4 linked regions of the Homo sapiens genome follow. The protein of the gene in region 3 purifies or fractionates together with the protein of the main gene of each other region. This does not show direct contact. Each region holds a gene or a part of one and is shown on either strand. Other genes may lie near its edges. The genes, in order: EEF1A2, EEF1A1, EEF1G and MKKS.

Region 1 (7,139 bases), on a different chromosome or scaffold from region 3:
GAGTCCCTGGTGGTGCGAGCTGCTTGTTACAGCAGAGTGGCCGCGAGAGGCGGGAGATGGGCTCCAGCACCCCCTTGCTCTCCGTCGGGGTCCTGGGACGCCGGCCCCCTCCGTCGGGACCCCACACCCAGACCCTGCCCCCCAGGGCCGGCCTCCGCACCTGCTCCGAAATGGGCGCGGCTACGCAGGTCCACCAGCAGGTGGCGCAAGGGCCTGGGAGTCGCTCGCTCTACGAGCGAAGCCGCCAGATGGGATAAACCCCTCCCGGGCGAGGGCTCCCCTTTATCTGAAGCTGCGGACGCCCCCAGATCCCTTCCTCAACCAGAGGCCAATAATACCACCGTGTTTGGGGCTGTCAGATAAATAACCCTCTGTGTGTGTGTGTTTTTTTAAGGTAAGGAGAAAGGAAAACTGAATGAGGTCAGGAGGAGGGCCTGGCCACGCAGCTCCTTCCCGCTGCTCCAGCCTCCCCATCCCTCTGAGGCTTCTCCTCCCCTTCCTCGCTCTGCCGGACACGGGAAGCTGGGGGGCCTCGGCCAGTGAGACCCCCACAGAAGGGGACGGGCTTCAGTCAGGGCAGCAGCGGCGGTCACTACCCAGCTGGGCAGAACTCCTCGCCAGGGCCTCGCACAGACAGGACTCTGCCCTCCAGGAGGCTGCCCAGTCTGGAGCAGACCCAGATGGGACCCAGCTGGGGCCTGAAACAGCGGCCCTCTGAAACCCCCGCCTCCTCCTGACAAGGCCAGGTAAAGGGTGATGCAGCCCAAACTCAGGGGTGCAGCTCAGAGCACCCCCAACCCCGCCAGGGCAGAGGCTCAGCCCAGGACAGCGAGTGCCCCCACCTTGGGCCCTGGCCTCCGCCCTCATCATCCAGGTGAGAGCTCCCACAGGCCCTCCCAGGAGTGGGCTTCTCCCCAGAGTCCTGGGTGGGGGATGGGGATCAGAGAGCAGACCCCGTCTCATGACCGCTCCCCACCACCGTCTCAGCCACCAAAGAGAAATCGCTTCAAAAGGTCAGCTAGGAGGTCACCTCATCCAGGACCCCCACCCCAGGGCTGCCCTGGACAGCAGCCCTCCACAGCCCAGCACAAGAAAATGGAGCAGACGGGCCGGCTGCCCATCAATCAGCTATTAATAGTAGCGTGTGCCCTGGCAGGGCCCTAGGACAAGTGAGGGCAGTACCATCTCCAGCCCCAGCCTTGGCCCTGGGGGGAAGGGGGTAAGGCTCCAGCGCCCTCCAGCCCCAGCTCAACATGGCAGAGTTCCAGAGCCTTCTGCAGACCCTCCCAGGTCACCTCCCTCACCACAGGGCAAGTCCGGCAGCTCGATGGCCACCCCTCCCCCACCAAGCTCCCCCTAAGAGAGAGGCTGCCCCACCAGACCCTCTGAGGCCTGAGTGCCCCACAGCGGGGGTCCCTCCTGCCCTGGAGGAGGTCACCTGAGCCCCATGCCCTGGGGCTGGGAGATGCCAAGCCTGGCCACCACGGGAGTTGGGGGTTCCTTCTCAGGGGGCCAAGACCATAGCCTGGGGAGCTCACCTCAGCCGCCTCCTTCTCGAACTTCTCAATGGTCCTTTTGTCAATACCTCCGCATTTGTAGATGAGGTGGCCCGTGGTGGTGGACTTTCCGGAGTCCACGTGGCCGATGACCACGATGTTGATGTGGGTCTTCTCCTTGCCCATTTTGCTGGGAGTGTGAGGGGCTGGCGGGACCCGGGGTGCTCTGGCTCAGGGCGAGGGGGGCTGCAGTGATTCTGTGGGGCCAGTGGTGGTGGGGAGACCGGTGATGGGGAGCCCCAGGGGGAGACACCAGCAGAGACTGTCCTGGCACAGGCTGGACAGGCATCCCTGCCCACAAACCAAGCCCCCATGTTTGGTGGGGAGGGAAGGGCCCCCACCCACAGCTGGGCCTGGCCAGGGCAAGCAGAGGCTGTGCACTGCCCCCACCCCACACTTGAGCCCAAACAGCCCCATCTGCTGTAAATAACTGGGCGTTGGAGCCCGCGGGCTGCTCCTTGGGAAGGGGTTAGCCACCATTTGGAGAGACCACGCAGCGCCAGGCTGGGTACGTCCGTGACCAGCAGAGCCGGGTGATGAGTCACCTGCCCAGCGCTCCAGGGCCCTGTCCTGCACGCGCACTCCCCTCCCCGGCGGCAGGGCCAGGGACACGGCGCCCCACCCCCACCCGCTGCCACCGGGGAGAGATGGCCACTGCTCCCCACTCCCCTCCTCAGGCAGGGACGGCGCCATCTTCCCCTCATCCCTGCCCGGCAGGCTGGGCCAGAGCCCCGACGGAGATGCGCTGCCCAGATTAGGAACCCAGAATAGCTCTAGGCACCCCCCTCCCGGACTCTCACAGGGACAGACAGCGGCCGGGAGGTGGGGGTCCCTGTTCCAGCCTGAGGAAGGAGGACCCGGCCCTGCCGAGCCCAGCAAGTGCCAGGTGGAGATGCCCTCGGCCCCGTGGGGGTATAGGGGGCACCCTCCCTCCCCCCCTCCCTGTGACTCAGGACCCTGGGTCACAGCCCTGTCCCATCACAGAGGTCAGTGGAGAAACCCACGCTGCTCCTCGCGGACAGGTGGCTGGGGGAGGGAAAGAGGACAGAAGCCACCCTGGGGTGGGAACACGGGTGGGGGTGGGGAGGCCAGGGCCCCCAGATCTCACCACCTCCCTCAGCGTCCTCTGGCCCAGCGCCCCGAAGCCCGACCCCCATCAGCCCCCGGCCCGCAGGGTCCCCGCGGCCCCAAGGTCACGGCTACGGGGCGATCGCCGCCCAGGACCCGGCCCCGCCGCCCCGCGCCGCCCCCCACCCCGGGCCCAGCCCGGCCGACGCGGGGACCCCCGGAAGCCGGACTCCGGGCGCGCGCGGGGGCGGGTGCGGGGCCCGGCCACCCTCTGCCCCCCAGGACCGGCCCCGGGGGTCCCTCTTCGGAAGACGGGGGCGGGGGCGGAGGCCCGGGGGCCGAGCGTCCTTACCCGGAGCCGAGGTCTCAGCCAGAGGGACTGGCGGCGCCGGCGCCGGCGGTTTTATCTCCGGGAGGGGGTCCACCTATTGACGGTGGCGGCGCAGTGCACCGCGCCCTGCAGCACGCCAATGCGGAACCGCGCGGGAGGGGGCGGGGCGCGGACGCGCGCGGGCGGGCGCCACGGGGACGCGAGGCGATGCGGGAGGCGCGGGCTGCAAAGACGGACGCGGGAGGCGGGGGAGAAACGCGCCGCGGGCGGGGGCGGGGCGGGGGGCAGGGCAGGGAGGCGGCGGGAGGGAGGGACCGGGACGGAGACGGCGCGGGGAGAGCGCGGCGGGCCCGGGAGACGGGGCGAGAGCCGGCTCAGGGCAGGAACACGCTTGAGCCGCGAAAAGCGGTCCCCGGGGACAGGGCAGACGCCGAGGACCGGAGCCGGCAGGCGGGGGAGGGGAGCAGGTGGGCTGCAGCCTGGGAGACGAGCCTGGGTCTACCGGCCCCTCCCCGGCCCTGCTCATGGGGGACGCCCCAGAACCAACGAAGCCCGGCTCTGAGGGGCTCTCCCTAATGAGGCCCGGGGGTGCAGGCCTCAGGGTGGAAATCTGCTGGTTTCCAGTCCCTGTCCTCACGTGCCTGCCCTCCTGGGCGCACCATGACAGGCCCCGAGGATCCAGCGCAGAACCACCCTCCCCCTGAGAGGCTGGTCTCCCACGGTGCAGGGAACGCCGGAAGCCCGCTCCCAGACCCACTGACATCTTCCAGGGACCCTCCCCTCCGGGTGCGCCGACCTCCGGCTGCTGCTGGGAAACAGCGCCAGCCAAGGGCGAGTCAGATCCAGACAGACCCAGGCCCCCCCGCCCAGCGCCCCACCCCGCTGCACCTCAGCGCCTTGTAGCTGATGCTCATATGGGGTCAGGATGCCAAGCCAAAGACCGGGCCACGCTCTGTAGGAAGTGGGGAGTCCCTGAGGTCCTGGCACACGCGGGTAATGACCAACGTGGGTTGTGAGGAAGGGGATGTGGCAGCCATGTGTTGTGTGAAGACCAAGGTTAGGGGCTTTCTCCAGACCCCAAGATCCTGTCGTCTCACCCAGGTATTCAGGTCTTCCCTCCCACGCTGCCCCCCCACCCCCACGCACTCGGATCTTCCTGCCAGCGGGGTCTCGGGAGGTGTGTGCTGAGTGGGGGCAGAGCCCTGGCACCTGTCCTCTCAGCCCTGAGTTCCCACTGGGTGTTGACATGGAGGCCCCGGGTCGGGCCCAGCAGCTGCGACTGGGCAAATCCATGGGGATCCCCAGCGACTGGACCCCTACCTGGCCTGCTGGCAGGTGTGAGGAGGAAGGAAAGGTGGGGGCCCAGGGTCGGGGCCAAACAGTTCTCCCCAGCCTGTGGAGAGGGCCTCTCAGGAGGACCCTGGTCTGTGGCTGCGTCTGCCCCATAGGAGTCCAGGGACTTGGGCTCCTGGGCCACAGGCAGGAGAGGAGGCAGGGAGGGCCTGCTAGGTGCCCCGGCACTTCCGAGTGCTGCCGATGCCGTCAAACAGGAGCCAGGAATAAAAATAACCGCCTGGCAAGAAAGCAAGGCCCGCCCCACCCCACCCAGCTGGTCTCTATATTTAACGCCTCCCCTGCAGCCTGAAGGTTAGGCAGGGATTTGGAAGTGGGCTTGCTGCAGGTGCTCGAGTGGCCCAGGCCGGGGTCCCGGGGATGCCCACCCCACTCCCCCAAGGGATCACCAGGACTCTGGGCTACCTTTTCCAGACACCCCTTCCCCCTCGGCTCCCGGCTCACCCATAGCAGTGCCAGGGGCTCACATGTGCCGTGGGGCCTTGCCACCCACAGGAGTGGCCCCTGAGAGTGGAATGTGGCAACCTCCCCAAAGCACCTGTGTGCTGACTCTGGGCAAGGGTGTCGGTGGCTGCTCCAAAGGGTCTCCCAGGCGCCAGGACACGTTTGGTCCACGGTGTGGCCCCTCGGGGTCCTGGGAGCCACCGACTCAGTTCCGCAGACACTTGGAACACACAGCTAACGGGGCTGCGGTCACAAGGCTAAACACTAACACACTGATGGTTCCGAGCCACCGCGGAGACTGAACAGGACTGAATGGCTACTAACTACGGAATGCTAACTGCTGAATAACGGCAGTGGCCTGACCACGTCCCCAAAGTGCACGAGTTGTAACTTAATCCCCAATGCAACAGTGTTGGGGGCTGGCGCTTTCGGGAAGGAGTCTGGGTCATAAAGGGTTTGCCCTTCCGAATGGATTTGTGCCCTATAAACAGGACTCATGGCAGTGGGTTCTCTCTTGCTCTTCCGCCTTCTCCCATGTGAGGACACAGCAAGAAGGCCCTACCAGATGGCAGCACCTTGATCCTGGACTTCCTGGCCTCCAGACTGAGAAATAAACTTCTGTTTACTTATAATAATTTATAAATTTATAAAGCAAACTTTATAAATGTTTAAATTTAAGTAATGTATAATTACCCAGTCTCAGGTATTCTGTCATAGCACAACAAGCAGGCAAAACACTTGTCAATGGCCGGGTAGCACCAAATGACTTCAAGTACCAAGCATCCTAATTAGTCACAGCCAAGTCGCCCAGCTGTGTGAGTTCACAGTGTGGGGGACGGGGGACAGGGGGCCGTGCACGTGCACAGTGTGCGGGGATGGGGGCTGCGGGGACAGAGGCTACAAGGTAGGCCCCACAAGGCTGGCTGGAGGACCTTGAGAACCTGTGAGGCAACTGGGCACAGAAAGGCCAAGATTCCTGTCCAAGGACACGCAGCAAGTAAGGGGGCCTGTGGCCTGTGCTTTCCCTGCCCTCCCCCAGGTCAGGACTTGGGCCCCTCTTCTTGCATCTGAGTCCCTGGTCACAGTGCCGTCCTCACCAACAACCTGGGGGGGGTGGGGGGAGGGGAAATGGCGAGTCAAGAGGGCACCAGCCAATCAGGGCTTCCCTGGGGGCAGGCCCCGCCCCTCCTCGACCCCTCCCAGAGCCCCCAGGCCCCGCCCCTCCTTGCCGCCTCCCAGAGCCCCCAGGACCCATCCCTGAGCTGTTTGGGGAGACACAGGCAACCCCTTCTTTGGCTGGCTAGGGTTTCACGAGCCTCGGGAAAGAAGATGCAGCTAAAATTAACCGCTATCAAGCTGTCAGCCCTGGAAATAAACCTGCCTCCCATTGGCTGCCGGTGACGTCACTGCTGGGTTAATAATAGCCGCCGAGTGCCTAACGAACCACCTGTGCATGGGGCACAGCCAGGCCATCACCCCGGGGCCACCGTCGCAGGCAGGTGGAGGCTGGCAGCCCAGAGGCAGACAGGGGCTTGGAGGCAGGGTGGGGAGCAAGGCCAAGGCCGCTCTCTGGCCCCCAGTGTCACAGGATGACCTCAGCCCTGGCCTGGCCCCAGAGCAGGTGTGGATTCATTTTCCGGTCACGGAGCATCTCGTCTGCTGGCCCACCTGGGCCCCCTGGACGGCCACCAGGACAAGGCCCACCCCCGCGGCCATGCCTTGGGGCTGGCTCCCAGGGGACTGAGCATGCCCTTGAGGCAGCGAATTAAACAGTCTCCATGGCAGCAGAGGAGCTCCTGCCTCTGGAGCCTCCCTTAGAGGAGCAGCTCATGTCCCCCCAGATCAGAGAAGCTGGGGCTGGGCTGGCAGCGGGCAAACATGCCTGCAGGTCAGGCCACAGACCAGGGCCAGCCACGGCCCCGACAGCCCACCCTCCAACCCGGTATCTGGGTGTGCCTGAGGCAGACCTGAGTCTACCAGGGAGGCCCAGGAGGGATGCAGCCCCTCCGCCAGGGGGAAGGGCGGCCTGGCCTGCCACCCCGACCTGCAGGCCCCAGCAGGGAGCGTTGCCATGGTGAGAGGCAGCAGCAGCAGGATGCCCTCCCTCCAGGCCCTGCTGCCCGGGAGCCCAGCACCCACCCTGGTGGGGAGCAGACAGCACGTGCTCCTGCCGCAAGCAGCACTTTCTGGGCTTCTGGGCTTCCAGCTGCAGTCCCCGCTAGCCCCTCCCGGCCCCTGGCCATTACAGCCCATTGCAGGCTGGGAGGCTAAACAGGAGGCCGGGGTCACCGACCAGGGTGGGGTCACCTCTTGGACCCAAGAAGGGCAGCCCCTGGTGCCAGCACAGGGGCGCTGTGCCCTCCAGTGCCCAGAGGCAGAGGGGAGAG
Region 2 (6,855 bases), on a different chromosome or scaffold from region 3:
TTAAGTAGTCATCCTTACCCAAAGGTGGATAGTCTGAGAAGCTCTCAACACACATGGGCTTGCCAGGAACCATATCAACAATGGCAGCATCACCAGACTTCAAGAATTTAGGGCCATCTTCCAGCTTTTTACCAGAACGGCGATCAATCTTTTCCTTCAGCTCAGCAAACTTGCATGCAATGTGAGCCGTGTGGCAATCCAATACAGGGGCATAGCCGGCGCTTATTTGGCCTGGATGGTTCAGGATAATCACCTTGGAAAAAAGATTTGCATTCAGTGCAAATCCAAAGTCTCAAATGACTTTAGCCTCTGCAATAAGTTAATGTTACTTTAAATTGTTACCTGAGCAGTGAAGCCAGCTGCTTCCATTGGTGGGTCATTTTTGCTGTCACCAGCAACGTTGCCACGACGAACATCCTTGACAGACACATTCTTGACATTGAAGCCCACATTGTCCCCAGGAAGAGCTTCACTCAAAGCTTCATGGTGCATTTCGACAGATTTTACTTCCGTTGTAACGTTGACTGGAGCAAAGGTGACCACCATACCGGGTTTGAGAACACCAGTCTCCACTCGGCCAACAGGAACAGTACCAATACCTAAAAATATTTACAGCATACTAAATACCTATGAAGGCAGACAGTACTCTATCAACTCAAATTCAACTTTGTTTACAGCCAACTTACCACCAATTTTGTAGACATCCTGGAGAGGCAGGCGCAAGGGCTTGTCAGTTGGACGAGTTGGTGGTAGGATGCAGTCCAGAGCCTCAAGCAGCGTGGTTCCACTGGCATTGCCATCCTTACGGGTGACTTTCCATCCCTTGAACCAAGGCATCTGAAACACAAGCATGCCAATTTGTGTAAGCATGAAATCGCCATTCCCAGAGCTTTTTAACAATGGTCTTGAAAGCCACTTACGTTAGCACTTGGCTCCAGCATGTTGTCACCATTCCAACCAGAAATTGGCACAAATGCTACTGTGTCGGGGTTGTAGCCAATTTTCTTAATGTAAGTGCTGACTTCCTTAACAATTTCCTCATATCTCTTCTGGCTGTAGGGTGGCTCAGTGGAATCCATTTTGTTAACACCGACAATTAGTTGTTTCACACCCAGTGTGTAAGCCAGAAGGGCATGCTCTCGGGTCTGCCCATTCTTGGAGATACCAGCTTCAAATTCACCAACACCAGCAGCAACAATCAGGACAGCACAGTCAGCCTTTAAAGAAAGCAAAGACATATCCCTGTCAACTCTCCAAATGACAAAACCAGTGTACAAAGCAAGCCTTTTGGGATAAAGAAACCTAGAATTATTAATCCCACCAACCTGAGATGTCCCTGTAATCATGTTTTTGATAAAGTCTCTGTGTCCTGGGGCATCAATGATAGTCACATAGTACTTGCTGGTCTCAAATTTCCACAAGGAGATATCAATGGTGATACCACGTTCACGCTCAGCTTTCAGTTTATCCAAGACCCAGGCATACTTGAAGGAGCCCTTTCCCATCTGTAAGGATTAAGAGTCGTTACTTGGTTACTAAAACACAAACTCCAGCTTCAATTTCCTTGTCCCCAGCCCTTAATTGGCAGTTTCCACTTTACAACTCCAAGTCCAAAGTGATTTTAGTCACTTTGGGTTACAGAAGCAACCAAAAATCAAACTTTTATAAGTCGGATCTTAACTATTAACATCCAAATCTACTCACTAGCAATACGATTACAGAAGTCACCAAAAGCAAAATTATTTCATAAGTAAGGTCTTAACTATTAGCATTCAGATCTAAACCACTCACTAGTTCTGGGGAAATCACCTAATGATTCTGCTGGTAAAACTCATTTTAGTTGATCTTTCCCTTTCTGGTATTAAACATACCTCAGCAGCCTCCTTCTCAAATTTTTCAATGGTTCTTTTGTCGATGCCACCGCATTTATAGATCAGATGGCCAGTAGTGGTGGACTTGCCCGAATCTACGTGTCCAATGACGACAATGTTGATATGAGTCTTTTCCTTTCCCATTTTGGCTTTTAGGGGTAGTTTTCACGACACCTGAAATGGAAGAAAAAAACTTTGAACCACTGTCTGAGGCTTGAGAATGAACCAAGATCCAAACTCAAAAAGGGCAAATTCCAAGGAGAATTACATCAAGTGCCAAGCTGGCCTAACTTCAGTCTCCACCCACTCAGTGTGGGGAAACTCCATCGCATAAAACCCCTCCCCCCAACCTAAAGACGACGTACTCCAAAAGCTCGAGAACTAATCGAGGTGCCTGGACGGCGCCCGGTACTCCGTGGAGTCACATGAAGCGACGGCTGAGGACGGAAAGGCCCTTTTCCTTTGTGTGGGTGACTCACCCGCCCGCTCTCCCGAGCGCCGCGTCCTCCATTTTGAGCTCCCTGCAGCAGGGCCGGGAAGCGGCCATCTTTCCGCTCACGCAACTGGTGCCGACCGGGCCAGCCTTGCCGCCCAGGGCGGGGCGATACACGGCGGCGCGAGGCCAGGCACCAGAGCAGGCCGGCCAGCTTGAGACTACCCCCGTCCGATTCTCGGTGGCCGCGCTCGCAGGCCCCGCCTCGCCGAACATGTGCGCTGGGACGCACGGGCCCCGTCGCCGCCCGCGGCCCCAAAAACCGAAATACCAGTGTGCAGATCTTGGCCCGCATTTACAAGACTATCTTGCCAGAAAAAAAGCGTCGCAGCAGGTCATCAAAAATTTTAAATGGCTAGAGACTTATCGAAAGCAGCGAGACAGGCGCGAAGGTGCCACCAGATTCGCACGCGGCGGCCCCAGCGCCCAAGCCAGGCCTCAACTCAAGCACGAGGCGAAGGGGCTCCTTAAGCGCAAGGCCTCGAACTCTCCCACCCACTTCCAACCCGAAGCTCGGGATCAAGAATCACGTACTGCAGCCAGGGGCGTGGAAGTAATTCAAGGCACGCAAGGGCCATAACCCGTAAAGAGGCCAGGCCCGCGGGAACCACACACGGCACTTACCTGTGTTCTGGCGGCAAACCCGTTGCGAAAAAGAACGTTCACGGCGACTACTGCACTTATATACGGTTCTCCCCCACCCTCGGGAAAAAGGCGGAGCCAGTACACGACATCACTTTCCCAGTTTACCCCGCGCCACCTTCTCTAGGCACCGGTTCAATTGCCGACCCCTCCCCCCAACTTCTCGGGGACTGTGGGCGATGTGCGCTCTGCCCACTGACGGGCACCGGAGCCTCACGCATGCTCTTCTCCACCTCAGTGATGACGAGAGCGGGCGGGTGAGGGGGCGGGAACGCAGCGATCTCTGGGTTCTACGTTAGTGGGAGTTTAACGACGGTCCCTGGGATTCCCCAAGGCAGGGGCGAGTCCTTTTGTATGAATTACTCTCAGCTCCGGTCGGGGCGGGTTGGGGGGGGTGGTGACGGGGAGGCCGCCTGGAAGGGACGTGCAGAATCTTCCCTCTACCATTGCTGGCTTAGCTCCAAAGGTTGTATTGAGATTAGGGTGTACCTTCGCCTCTCAATCAGCCTCCCGTCCTCAGCCTTGCCATCTCGCTAGTCCGGGACAAATCCCTAGAGCGTCTTCCTCTGCGGGTCTCAGCCCAGCCCGGGGTTGGCTCCTCCTCCGCCCCGGCTTCCGCGCCCCTCCCGTGTGGCAAGGAGTACCAGGCCCGGGGACCCCGAGGGGCTTGGGGCGAAGGGTCGGGACTGGGGGCCTCCTTAACGGCTCACGGACTTGCGAGAGGTTCGGCTCGATGGCCGTGAAAGCGACGAATCCGCTCCTGTGCTGGCCTCTTGGCTCCTTCCATTCAAAGCCAGCTGCTTTTATGGAAGCCCGTAACACGTCATCTCCCCCTGGTACTCCAGATGTCCAGGCTTTCAGTTTAGAATAGACTCAGTCCTACAGTTAGCTTTAGATCTAATTCTAGTTTTGTTACGCCAAAAAGTTCCTGCGAGTGTGTGTGTGTGCCTCATGGTACTTTTTAAATTAAAAGGTGTACAGTTATTTGATTGCAAACATAAGGAACCTAAAATGCTTTCAGATTTTCCACATGATCTCATGTAGAGGCTAAGATCTACAGCATCAGCAAGTTTATCCACCCAGTTTCCTAACCCCAACACTTGCTATGAAGTCACAGCTTCTCCTATTTAAATAAGTGCCTATTATATTTAAATAAGTGCTGTCGTTTTCTGTCATCCTATCGATTGTAACTGCATTTTAGCATAAATCTAGGGCAAGATTGGATGAGCTTGGCCTTTTTGGATGGCTATCAAGGCAGGCCTTGGGAAATGCTCCTCTGAGGAAAGAAGAACGTTTATTTTTAATGAGCTAATTACTAGATCATTATGTTTCTTCTTCCAGCTGTAGAATATCATTGCCCAGCTTCTCGAACAAACTTATTTATTAACAAGTATTTGAGAACCTACTATGTGGCCAACGCTAAGTACTGTGGAGTTCCTTCTGGAGAGGAAACCACAATCAAATTGGAAGAGGAAAACAAGTTGGGAAGCAGTTGAAGGCAAACGCTATGGTGCTTTCTTGGTTTCTGTATCTTTGTAGTGTAGTTTTTCTAGTCCTTTCAGTTTTCACAGTCCACTTTTTTTTCTTTCTTTCTTTTTTTTTTTTTTTTTTGAGACGGAGTTCTACTCTGTTGCCCAGGCTGGAGTGCAGTGGCGCGATCTCGGCTCACTGCAAGCTCTGCCTCCCGAGTTCAAGCGATTCCTCCTGCCTCAGCCTCCCAAGTAGCTGGGACTACAAGCGCGCCCCACAAATTTTTGTATTTTTAGAAGAGACGGGGGTTTCACCATGTTGGCCAGGCTGGTCTCGAACTGCTGACCTCAAGTGATCCACCCGGCTCGGTCTCCCAAAGTGCTGGGATTACAGGCGTGAGCCACGGTGCCCGGCCACAGTCAAAGTTTTTCCTCAAGCCCCTGTGATTGCGGATAATAGTAAACGCTTTATAAATACCTTACACAGAATGTTTTTTAAAATATCACGCAAGGAATGACAAAATTACATGAATCCTTGATTTATACCTAAGTAACATATTGTGCAACACAGACTGGGTGTTCTGAATGTTGCGATAGTGGCCGAGACTTTCATTAGGTGAAGGGAGATCTCAATTCTCGCGTTTAAGAACCAACACTGGACCGGGCGCGGTGGCTCACGCCTATAATACCAGCACCTTGGGAGGCCGAGGCGGACGTATAATTTGAGGCCAGGAGTTCGAGACCAGCCTGGCCAACATGGTGAAACCCTGTCTACTGAAAATACAAAATTAGCCGGGCGTGGTGGCGCATGCCTGTAATCCCAGCTACTTGGGAGGCTGAGGCAGGAGAATCGCTTGAGCCCGGGAAGCGGAGGTTGCAGTGAGTCAAGATCACGCAATTGCACTCCAGCCTGGGCGACCGAGTGAGACCTTGTCTCAAAACAAAACAAAAAACCAATACCTTTGAGCCCATCGGAGCCATATTATTGTGCGTTAGGGGTAGTCACTGGCCACGAGCATTTTCTCAGGGCAGAGATCACATTTCTGCTCTCAGTGGGGCCGGGGTGGGCCGGAAGCCGGAGAGGGACTGGAACGCCGGTCCGGGGAAGCCCCGCGCGCACCGGGGCGCACCCTGCTTCCTAGGGAGGGAGGCTGGGGCGGCAAGGCGGGCGCGGGTGGTCCTTGCCCCGCGCCAGCTCGCCAGGCCACGTCGCTGGCGTTTTTCCAGCGCTGGGTCACCTGCGGGCCGGCGGGTTCCCGCGGCGAACAGCTGGGTGGTATGGATACGCCGCTCGAGCCTCCGCAGCGTCAGGTCGCCAGGGTCCGCCCTGCCACTCGCCCCACCTTGAGGTAACTTTTCTTCCGCCTTCTGACTGCGGAAGGAAGGGCCTGGGAGGAAGCAGAAAACCTCACGTGGCTCGGGGTGAGGGTCGGTTTTTGTCACCGTGAGCTGGCCTCTAAAAGACTTTTTAAGTCCCAAGTCTTCTTTTTCTTCTTATTTTAAATCCCTTTTTCCCCAGACCCTATGTTTTCAACATAATCATAACGGATTCCCCGCACCCCTACGCCTTTACAGAGATCCAGTATGCTTTTTACTGCCTTAAATGTTAAAGCGGTAACAGTAACGATGTTGAGGCTCGTAAATGTGTTTTGGGGTCATAATCTAAGGTAGTATTTGCTGAAGATTTTTCTTAAACTTGCTCATAACCATTTAGAGTGACAAACTTAAAATACATTGTAAGTAAAAATCAACATGACCCCTTTTAGGAAGAAAAACAAAGATTTCAGTTATTTACATAGGAATAAGGCAAACAAGAATAGTTCTTTGAGGTACTTAATTGTGATTCACCAAGCTTTCAGTATAGTCTGACCACTCTGCTATTAGTCTAATTTAAAGCAGCCTTAAATAGTTACATTTTACCATGGCTTGCCACGTGAAAATGATTTTTAAATCTTTTCATCTGCTGTAGCTACCTCTGAAGAAAAGATGATGGCCCGGTGCGGTGGCTCACGCCTGTAATCCCAGCACTTTGGGAGGCCGAGTCAGGCGGATCACCTGAGGTAAGAGTTCGAGACCAGCCTGGCCAACATGGTGAGACTCCCGTCTCTACTAAAGATATAAAAATTAGCCAGGCTTGGTGGTGTGCACCTATAATCACAGCTACTTGGGAGGCTGAGGCAGGAGAATTGCTTGAACCCGGGAGGAGGAGGTTGCAGTGAGCAGAAATCGTGCCACTGCACTCCAGCCTGGGTAACAAAGTGAGACTGCATCTCAGAAAAAACTATATATATATATATATATATTTTTTTTTTTAAAGGGGTATTTTAGAATATGATTAAGCCAAGGAACTATTTGGACTGAGAATCCAATTTTTTTTTTT
Region 3 (7,036 bases):
AGGTTACCCTGTATTCTGCTGAGGACTTGGAAAACAGCTAGAGGTGGGTGCAGTGGCTCATGCCTGTAATCCGAGCACACTGGGGGGCCGAGGTAGGCAGATCACCTGAGGTCAGGAGTTTGAGACCAGCCTGGCCAACATGGTAAAACCCTGTCTCTACTAAAAATACAAAAAATTAGCCAGGTGTGGTGGCGCACACCTATAGCCCCAGCTACTTGGGAGGCTGAGGCACAAGAATCACTTGAATCTGGGAGGTGGAGGTTGCAGTGAGCAGCGATCGCCCCACTGCACTCCAGCCTGGGTGAGAGTGAGACTTCGTGTCAAAACAAACAAAAAACAGCCAGGAATCCCAGGACTGAGTACCATCACTTGCTTTCCATTCTCTTAAGAAGCTGGGTAATGTCTTGCCTTTAGTTTCTGTTTGGCAGCTAAGATGTTTAGTTTGTTGCCATATTTCCTGGGAAGATTGGTTATTCTTAGTTGTGAAGACAGAGGTGATGATGGTAGCTTCAGCATTAAGATCTTTTTGGAGGCAGGCCAGGCACTGTGTCTAACACCTATAATCCCAGCACTTTGGGAGGCCTAGGCGGGTGGATCACTTGAGGTCAGGAGTTCGAGACCATCCTGGCCAGCATGGCGAAACCCTGTCTCTATTAAAAATACGAAAATTAGCCGGGCGTGGTGGTAGGAGCCTGTAATCCCAGCTACTTGGGAGGCTGAGGCAGGAGAATGGCTTGAACCCAGGAGGTGGAGGTAGCAGTGAGCCAAGATCCAGCTACTGTGCTCCAGCCTGGGGGACAAGAGCGAGACTCCATCTCAAAAAAAAAAAAAAAGCTCTTTAAGCTCTTTTGGAGACAGATACAGGTTCAAGCCTTGGCTTCATTGTTTACCAATGTAGGTAAGGGGTTATATGCGGGTGAATTCCTTTAGTCCTGTTTTTTACTCTTTGCAATCTATAAAATCAGGGTAGTAATAATCACTGTCAAGGTTATTGGGTCAAAAAAGAATGACAAGTCACTGGTTTCCAAATAAAAGCTCTTGGACTGATGCTGGTCCAGAATAGTAATGTGATCATAGCAAAAGAAAAAACACTTACTGCATGCCAGACCCTGTGCCAGGGGCCTCATGGGGATCATCTTAGTGAGTGAATCTACTAAGTGGTAGAGTAGAATTTGAACCCAAGTACTGTGGAACCAGCACTCTGACTGCTGTGTTCTGTTTCCATGACAAGATTTTTTTTCCTCTTCTGGTCTTTGCAAACTAAAAAATGACAACAGTTCTACCTGAAGCTTTGCAAACTGAAAACTGACAACAGTTCTACCTGAAGCTGTTTATTCTTATTTTTCTTTGACCATGCTTAATACACCAGACACTAAGTTTAATTTGAAGGACTGTCCATTATTTATTTATTTATGTATTTATTTTGACAGAGTCTTGCTCTGTCACCCAGGCTGGAGTGCAGTGGCACGATCTTGGCTCATTGCAACCTCCACCTCCCAGGTTCAAGCGATTCTCCTGCCTCAGCCTCCCAAGTAGCTGGGATTACAGGCATGCGCCACCAAACCCGTCTAATTTTGTATTTTTAGCAGAGATGGGGTTTTGCCATGTTGGTCAGACTGGTCTTGATCTCCTGAGGACCTCAGGTGATCCACCCGCCTCGGCCTCCCAAGTGCTGGGATTGCGGGGGTGAGCCACCACACCCAGCCAGGACTGTCCATTATTCTAAATGCGTTTGAATATTTTCTTTGAATGTTCTTTACTTTCTGAAGTTTGATGGATGGGTGGGTGTGGGGGGTGTGTGTGTGTGTGTGCGTGTGTGTATAGTATGGCCAATATAGATAGTAAATACCTATAGTGTTTAGATTTTATTTGGCAAAAAAGTCCTCGATAGCCCTCTGTGGGTCTCAATCTTTTTTTTTTTTTGAGACGAAGTCTCGCTCTTGTCCCCCAGGCTGGAGTGCGATGGCGCGATCTCGGCTCACTGCAACTTCTGCCTCCCGGGTTCAAGTGATTCTCTTGCCTCAGCCTCCTGAGTAGCTGGGATTACGGGCATGTGCAACCATGCCTGGCTGATTTTTGTATTTTTAGGAGAGGCGGGGTTTCACCATGTTTGCCAGGCTGGTCTCGAACTCCTGACCTCAGGTTATCTGCCCGCCTCGGCCTCCCAAAGTGCTGGGATTATAGGCGTGAGCCACCGCTCCTGGCCGACGTTTGAAATTTAAAAGATTGGAAACAGTAGATCTGAAATAGTTTTGTAAAGGAGCAAGACAATTATTACTCCTACTCCTAAATGGAGGATGGACCCAAGCATCCATCCATTAAACTGGACTACACTGAAAAAAAAGATTAGAAAAAGAAATGGAGGCCAGGTGTGGTGGCTCACGGGTAATCCCAGCACTTTAGGAGGCCAGGGCAGGAGGATTGCTTGAGCATGCGAGTTCAAGATAAGCCTGGGCAACATAGTGAGACCCCATCTCTATTAAAATTTTTTTTTTTTTTTTTTTTTTTTGAGACAGAGTCTCACTCTGTCACCCAAGCTGGAGTGCAGTGGCGTGATCTCGGTTCACTGCAACCTCCACCTCCTGGGTTTAAGTGAGTCTCCTGCCTCAGCCTCTGGAGTAGCTGGGACTACAGGCACGTGCCACCACGCCCAGCTAATTTTTTTTTTTTTGAGACAGAGTCACTCTGTCACCCAGGCTGGAATGCAGTGCCGCGATCTCCGCTCACTGCAAGCTCCGCCTCCCGGGTTCACGCCATTCTCCTGCCTTAGCGTCCCGAGTAGCTGGGACTACAGCTGCCCGCCATCACGCCCAGCTAATTTTTTTATTTTTAGGAGAGATGGGGGTTCACCGTGTTAGCCAGGATGGTCTCGATCTCCTGACCTCGTGATCCGCCCGCCTCGGAGATCCCAGCAGTTTGGGAGGCCGAGGTGGGCGGATCACTTGAGGTCAGAGTTCGAGAACAGCCTGGCCAACAGGGCGAAACCCCATCTCTACTAAAAGTACAAAAATTAGCTGGGTGTGGTGGCAGGCACCTGTAGTCCCAGCTACTCAGAAGGCTAAGGCATGGGAGGCTGAGGCACGAGAATCACTTGAACCCAGGAGATGGAGGCTGCAGTGAGCTGAGATCACGCCATTGCACCCCAGCCTGAGCGATAGAGTGAGACTCTGTCTCAAAAAAAAAAAAAATTGAAAAAAATGAAGAAATGGGAAGTAATCCAGGGAAGGATGATGTTGTATGAAGCTATTGTCTATAGGGTTTGAAAAGAAGGTGAGCACTGGGACTTAGGTAGAGCAAGGACTCTTGCTGTGAACAGAACTCTTCAGGGCCTTTCCACTGACTTTGTTTACACCCTTATGTCCTGGCAGGTTCTAGAGCCTTCTTTCCGCCAGGCCTTTCCCAATACCAACCGCTGGTTCCTCACCTGCATTAACCAGCCCCAGTTCCGGGCTGTCTTGGGCGAAGTGAAACTGTGTGAGAAGATGGCCCAGTTTGATGGTGAGTCTGAGGAGACTGGGAGGCATATGGCCAGGATCAGGGTCTGGTTTGCTCTGCATCAACCCCTTGATTTCCTGTCTTGCTTTTGGGTTATGGGGACCTGCAGAATGTAGGGTGTCAATGTGGTAGCTAATATTATGTGCAGTTTCGTGTACACTCATACCCTGACTAATTTGTATTACTATATAGATTTGCGATATAAAGTATTTGTTGCTGAGTGTGTTGTTGCTGGAGGACACACAGTGAACTGATGAGCAGTCTGGGGCCTAAGTTCCTTACTTGTCCCATTCGTCAGTTTCCTCTGTTACCTTGCTTGCTCTGTGTGGTTTTGGAGGGGTGTGGAAAGAGGCAGAACATTCGTTCACTTTCCTGCCTTCCTCTGCACCAGCTAAAAAGTTTGCAGAGACCCAACCTAAAAAGGACACACCACGGAAAGAGAAGGGTTCACGGGAAGAGAAGCAGAAGCCCCAGGCTGAGCGGAAGGAGGAGAAAAAGGCGGCTGCCCCTGCTCCTGAGGAGGAGATGGATGAATGTGAGCAGGCGCTGGCTGCTGAGCCCAAGGCCAAGGACCCCTTCGCTCACCTGCCCAAGAGGTAAGGATATTGGAGGGTGGAGGGTGTGGGACCAAAGAAGGCCTGTTCTCACCTCTGTATGTCCCCCCTCACACACAGCTAGAGCCAGAATTTTAGGTTGTCCATATAAAGTTAAAGGTATATTTTAGTTGCAAATAAAGCAGCTTTCTGGCTGATAATCAGGAATTGGGCAAATTTTGATTGTGGAGAGCAAGTTTCAAGTACAGCCAGTACTGGGGAAGATTGAACTCCTATTCCAACAAAGACAGGAACAGATTTTGATATAGTGGTAAGTTGGTTTTGAGCAAGCTCATTTGACCATTTGAGAGCTCTGAGAACAAATACAGGGAGAGGCGTGGGGAGGAAGAAAGTGCAGAGAGCCTTGCGGTGCGCCACGCGCCCGGCTGTGCGGAGATAGTGGATGCCAGAGCAGGGTCCTTTGAATTGTTTTGTTTTCTGTTTTGCTGAATCAGACTGTACAAAAATTGCTCACTAAGAAAAAGGATGAAGATCATAGCTAAGTAGTGTCTGTCTAGTTCATTGTTCCACAACCGAGTAAAGTCCCCAAGTAGAAGAAAGTAGGTGTCCTCTGTATCCCTTTTTCAGTTAAAGGTAGGGCTTCTTGGAAGAAATAATATAGTAAAAACGAGATTTTTGGCATGAAAAATGTAGGACGCTGAGTGCTTGCCCAGTTCTCTGGGATGGAGTCTTTCTTCCATCACTGCTCCAAGTCATTTTATTGGGAGTTCAAGCAGTTTGAGAAATATATATTCTGTGGTCACTTTGCTTTGGAACTCCTCTTTCTCTGTACTTTTTCCTCCCACTCACCCTGTCATTTCCAAAGCCGTTCATCTTTTTACTGCTTGGTCTGCTAGGGTTTACATTTCACCCTCTCCCATCTTGTAATGGCTTGGATACCGGGTGAACCAGCCTAAAGGAGCACCCACTGGTAGGGACACAGTAGCTGTGCATAGAATTGTGAATTACAAGCATTGCACTAATAGATGGGAGCAACTTGGGGTATAGCTGAAAGTTCTTACTCCCGGGTATTTTGTACAAGACCAGGAAGGCTCCATCCAGACACAGGCACTCTTTAAAGATGTATTTTTTGAACTAGTGATTTGCCTTGAATTTAGCACAGGTGCAGGTCAAGAGTGAGCAGGATTTTTGGTGTGTGTAAATAGGTCATGATAATTAACCCAAATTACATATTGTGTTGTAACTCAGACGTTGTTAATTATTAGCTAGAGATTTTCACATATAGTAGGTCAGTACTCTGGGCAGGAAATAAATGAGGCAGTAGTAAACTTAAAATCTTTATTTAATAAACTTTACATTTTCTTAACATGGTTTTGGGAATGTTTATTAATGTCTATTTATTGGGTTACCATGATGCCCTACAGGGCTGCCAGAAATGCTTTCCCCAAGGTTTTTTTTTTTGGAAACAGGGTTTTACTTTGTTGTCCAATCTGGAGTGCAGTAGCGTGATCACGGCTCACTGCAGTCTTGACCTCCTGTACTCAAGCGATCCTCCCACCTCAGCCTCTGGAGTAGCTGGGACAAAGGCACACACCACCACACCCAGCTAATTTTTTATTATTTGTAGAGACTAGGTCTCACTATGTTGCCCAGGCTGGTCACAAACTCCTGGGCTCAAGTGATCCTTGGCCTCTCAAAGTGCTGGAATTACAGGTGTGAGCCACTGTACCTGGCTCCTTTTTGTGTTTTTTGTTTTTTTTTGGTTTGTTTGTTTGGAGACAGAGTCTCACTCTGTCACCCAGGCTGGAGTGCAGTGGTGTGATCTCAGCTCACTGCAACCTCCGCCTCCCCAGTTCAAGCGATTCTCCTGCCTCAGCCTCCCGAGTAGCTGGGACTACAATGACAGGCGCGTGACACCACGGCTGGCAAATTTTTTGTATTTTTAGTAGAGACGGAGTTTCACCGTGTTAGCTAGGATGGTCTCAATCTCTTGACCTCGTGATCCGCCCACCTTGGCCTCTCAAAGTGGTGGGATTACAGGTGTGAGCTACCGTGCCTGGCCCCCTTTTTTTTTTTTTTTTTTTTTTTTGAGATGGAGTCTGGCTCTGTCGCCCAGGCTGGGATGTAGTGGTGCAATCTTGGCTCACTGCAACCTCCACCTGCCGGGTTCAAGCAGTTCTGCTTCAGCCTCTTGAGTAGCTGGGACTACAGGCACGCACCACCATGCCCAGCTAATTTTTTGTATTTTTAGCAGAGACAGGGTTTCACCATGCTGGGCAGGCTGGTCTCGAACTCCTGACCTCGTGATCCGCCCGTCTCCGCCTCCCAAAGTGCTGGGATTACAGATATGAGCCACTGCTCCCGGCCTTTTTTTTTTTTTTTGTGAGACAGAGTCTCACTCTGTTGCCCAGGTTGAAGTGCAGTGGTGTGATCTCGGCTTACTGCAGTCTCCGCCTCCTGGGTTGAAGCAATTCTCCTGCCTCAGCCTCCCGAGTAGCTGGGGATTGCAGGTGCGTGCCACCATGCCTGGCTAATTTTTGTATTTTTAGTAGAGATGGGGTTTCACCATGTTGGTCAGGCTGGTCTCAAACTCCTGACCTCAGGCAATCCGCCTGCCTTGGCCTCCCAAAATGCTGGGATTACAGGCGTGAGCCACCGCCCCTGGCTCCCCCAACATTTTTAATGTCATAAAAGTGATATCCTAAAAGACCAAGACTATTAATGTCCAGATTTTAATTCTAGTTCTTTTAAGACCCAGCTAGGTCAACTGCAGTGGCTCATACTACTTGGCAGGCTGAGGTGAGAGGGTCACTTGAGTCCAGCAGGTTGAGGCTGCAGTGAGCCATGATCGTGCCCCTGCACTTGGGTGACTGAGCAAGACCCTGTCTCAAAACAAATAGCTTGAACAGTTCAGGAGGGTGTGAAAAAATTCCCAGCCCCAGTTTTGGTGTGGTTGAGGTTTTAAGGCTCCTCAGATGAGGTCTCTT
Region 4 (2,750 bases), on a different chromosome or scaffold from region 3:
AAATTAATAATTAAAAAAAAAAATCTCGGCCAGGCGCGGTGGCTCACACCTATAATCCCAGCACTTTGGGAAGCCAAGGCGGGCAGATCACATGAGGTCAGGAGTTCGAGATCAGCCTGACCAACATGGAGAAACTCCATCTCTACTAAAAATACAAAATTAGCCGGGCATGGTGGCACATGCCTGTAATCCCAGCTACTCGGGAGGCGGAGGCAGGAGAATCCTTGAACCCAGGAGGCGGAGGTTGCAGTGAGCTGAGATCGCGCCATTGCACTCCAGCCTGTGCAACAAGAGCGAAACACCATCTCAAAAAAAAAAAAAAAAAAAAAAAAAAAAAATTCTCCCTGGCTAGATGATCAACTTGTTGAGGCCAGAGACTGTGAACAAATTTCTGTGTTGTTTTTTCCTCTTCTCACCGCCAAATACGCTTGACTATCCTATCTGCAAACAGAAAGGGCTCAATTAATACTTCCCAAAATCAAACCACAATACTAGAAACAAAATCAAGATGGCTAAAATAAGATGTTTATTATAAGTATTTTCTCAAAGAGAATTTTTAATAGGAGATTGTCAAGCTGTTTTATTTCCCTCTAAATTCACACTTCATTACAGGTAATATAGTATTCTATGGATTTTAGTGCGCCAAGACTAATCGTCTCTCCAACAAACAGCTTCACTTACATTTAGGAATAGTTTTCAGGGATTGCATTCTCTTTCATGAATATTACTATATTCTTAGTAAAGCAGCATATAAATCTACTTATAATCCAAAAGTAGGCTAACATTGGGTTTAGGTGCATCTAAATTCAAATTCTGTAGATGATTGGCAAAAACTTCCATTATGGGATACAATAGTTACTAAATGGAAGCACTTAGCTACATGAAAAAAATTATAAAGATATCAGATATTCAAAATTGACTTTTCCTTCAGATTAAGAGATAGCTTTATTTAGACAGCTGAAACAGGGCCTTGTAGGAGATGTTTAGTCTCTTTGACTATTCCCCAAAGATTATCAGGAAGGAATAACCTAACTAATTGTATGTTTTGTCAAGGCCTGCATTGATTTTTTACATGATAATTTTAAATAACCTGCATAATGTATGTGATGGTAAACAACATTATTTTATTTTAAAGTTATCCAAAGAACTGCTCAACAATATGAACAACAATATGAAAATACATAGTACAATGGCTGATTTATGGTTACTTCAAATTTCTTGTCTACAATGTAAATGCCTAAGTAGCTTTGATAATACAAACCAAATGAGTTCAAGGATACCTATAATAAAAGATATTAATGTGATATAGTTTAAATATCTTGTGTAAAATACTTCACTTACATAAAGTGCTTCAGTCTAACAGTTGACTTACAATGTCTAACATATAAAGACTCTCTAATATGGTACAAATGGAAGAATTAAAGGGTAGGATATCTATAAGACCAAATAAGTATTTGATTAAAAGTTTCCTTTATTTGCTGTAGCTCTCCACTTTCTTCCTTGCTGCTAAAATCCTAATGCCTTTTGATTAATAAGATGATAATCCTGTTGGACTCCTATGGTTGAATAACGTTTAATGTTACATGTCCTGAGAGTCCCACGAAATTATTGAGCAGCTGTCACCGACTTCATTTTCTTCTTCACACTCTCCCTTTCCTTTTCCACAGCGATCACGGTTTCCCATTCTCTCTCCTGAGGTACTTCATAATGCAATATTCAGACCTCAATCTTACTTTAAGTCACAAAACACTGCCTGAGGCTTACCTTAGTTGCTATTTTTACTTATCATTTATTTCTGCCAAAAGGAACTCCTCTAAAATTATTTTCATCAAGAATTTTCATTTCATGTTTTATCATCTAAGTTTGAACGCTAATTTTCTTGAACTATAGAGGAAGGTTTTTTTTCTCTTTTTTTCTATTTCCAGTGTTTTCTGCTAGGGATTATTATAACTTTAGGAAACATAGAGGTATTTGTAAATATATTTTAACGAATTTGTGATATATTCAAAATAAGAGCATTGATGTTTCACTAAGGAATGTAATCAAATTGTATGGCAAAGCTAAAAATGATAGAATTTAAAAAGTGGCTATCGTGAAAAGTAGAAGCCCCTAATCTATAAGATCAATTGGAGAGGTTCGCTGTGTCACCCCTTCTTGGAGGAACTTGAAAAAATGCAGGATAAGGGCAAAGAGAACCAGGACAATACCCAACTCCTATGTGACACATTGTAAACACATGTGATAAAGAACCCTTCTTTTAGGTTGGGGTGATGATAAAAATGCAAAGGCATGGCATCAAGAATGCTTTTTTCCATTTATGTGACCAAGTTTTCAGTAAATAATTTATTACAAATAAGCTTTTCCTCCTGCCTTTATTAGATAGCTATTGCTGTATAAGAAAGTACATCCCAAATTTGACTTAAAACAACATTTATTATCTCACAGATTTTGTGGGTTAGGAACCAACCTGGGAGTAGCTTAGCTGGCTTTTTTGCATCAGGGTCTCTCGTGTGGCTCCAGTGGTAGGGCTATACTCAACTCAAGGTTCCACTGGGGAGAACCTGCTTCCAAATTCACTCTTGTGGTTATTGGTACGATTCAGTTCCTTTTGAGCTGTTGGCTAGAAGCCTCCCTCAACCCTTGCTATGTGGGCCTCCCCAGGGGGCAGTTCCCAACATGACAGCTGGCTTCCATTGAGAGAGAAGGCATCAAGAGACAAACTCATCTTTTTACCACCAAATATCAGAAGT

The links.
Region 1: the proteins of EEF1G (region 3) and EEF1A2 purify together in Homo sapiens (affinity purification with mass spectrometry; 6 studies listed by BioGRID and IntAct, with this or other methods). This does not show direct contact.
Region 2: the proteins of EEF1G (region 3) and EEF1A1 purify together in Homo sapiens (affinity purification with mass spectrometry; 7 studies listed by BioGRID and IntAct, with this or other methods). This does not show direct contact.
Region 4: the proteins of EEF1G (region 3) and MKKS purify together in Homo sapiens (affinity purification with mass spectrometry; 3 studies listed by BioGRID and IntAct, with this or other methods). This does not show direct contact.

Annotation. Positions count from the first base shown.
Region 1 is NC_000020.11:63,496,082-63,503,220, forward strand, and holds the start of EEF1A2 (elongation factor 1-alpha 2), read right to left. Parts: upstream 3,003-7,139; 5' UTR 2,977-3,002; intron 2,543-2,976; exon of another isoform or gene 2,201-2,542; intron 1,754-2,200; 5' UTR 1,683-1,753; coding exon 1,539-1,682; intron 1-1,538. UniProt on the Homo sapiens protein: Translation elongation factor that catalyzes the GTP-dependent binding of aminoacyl-tRNA (aa-tRNA) to the A-site of ribosomes during the elongation phase of protein synthesis.
Region 2 is NC_000006.12:73,518,012-73,524,866, forward strand, and holds the start of EEF1A1 (elongation factor 1-alpha 1), read right to left. Parts: upstream 3,022-6,855; 5' UTR 2,989-3,021; intron 2,046-2,988; 5' UTR 2,016-2,045; coding exon 1,872-2,015; intron 1,506-1,871; coding exon 1,326-1,505; intron 1,218-1,325; coding exon 921-1,217; intron 838-920; coding exon 687-837; intron 600-686; coding exon 343-599; intron 254-342; coding exon 19-253; intron 1-18. UniProt on the Homo sapiens protein: Translation elongation factor that catalyzes the GTP-dependent binding of aminoacyl-tRNA (aa-tRNA) to the A-site of ribosomes during the elongation phase of protein synthesis.
Region 3 is NC_000011.10:62,563,861-62,570,896, reverse strand, and holds part of EEF1G (elongation factor 1-gamma), read left to right. Parts: intron 1-3,368; coding exon 3,369-3,498; intron 3,499-3,825; exon of another isoform or gene 3,826-3,886; coding exon 3,887-4,091; intron 4,092-7,036. UniProt on the Homo sapiens protein: Probably plays a role in anchoring the complex to other cellular components.
Region 4 is NC_000020.11:10,400,506-10,403,255, forward strand, and holds the end of MKKS (molecular chaperone MKKS), read right to left. Parts: 3' UTR 504-2,750; downstream 1-503. UniProt on the Homo sapiens protein: Probable molecular chaperone that assists the folding of proteins upon ATP hydrolysis. Plays a role in the assembly of BBSome, a complex involved in ciliogenesis regulating transports vesicles to the cilia.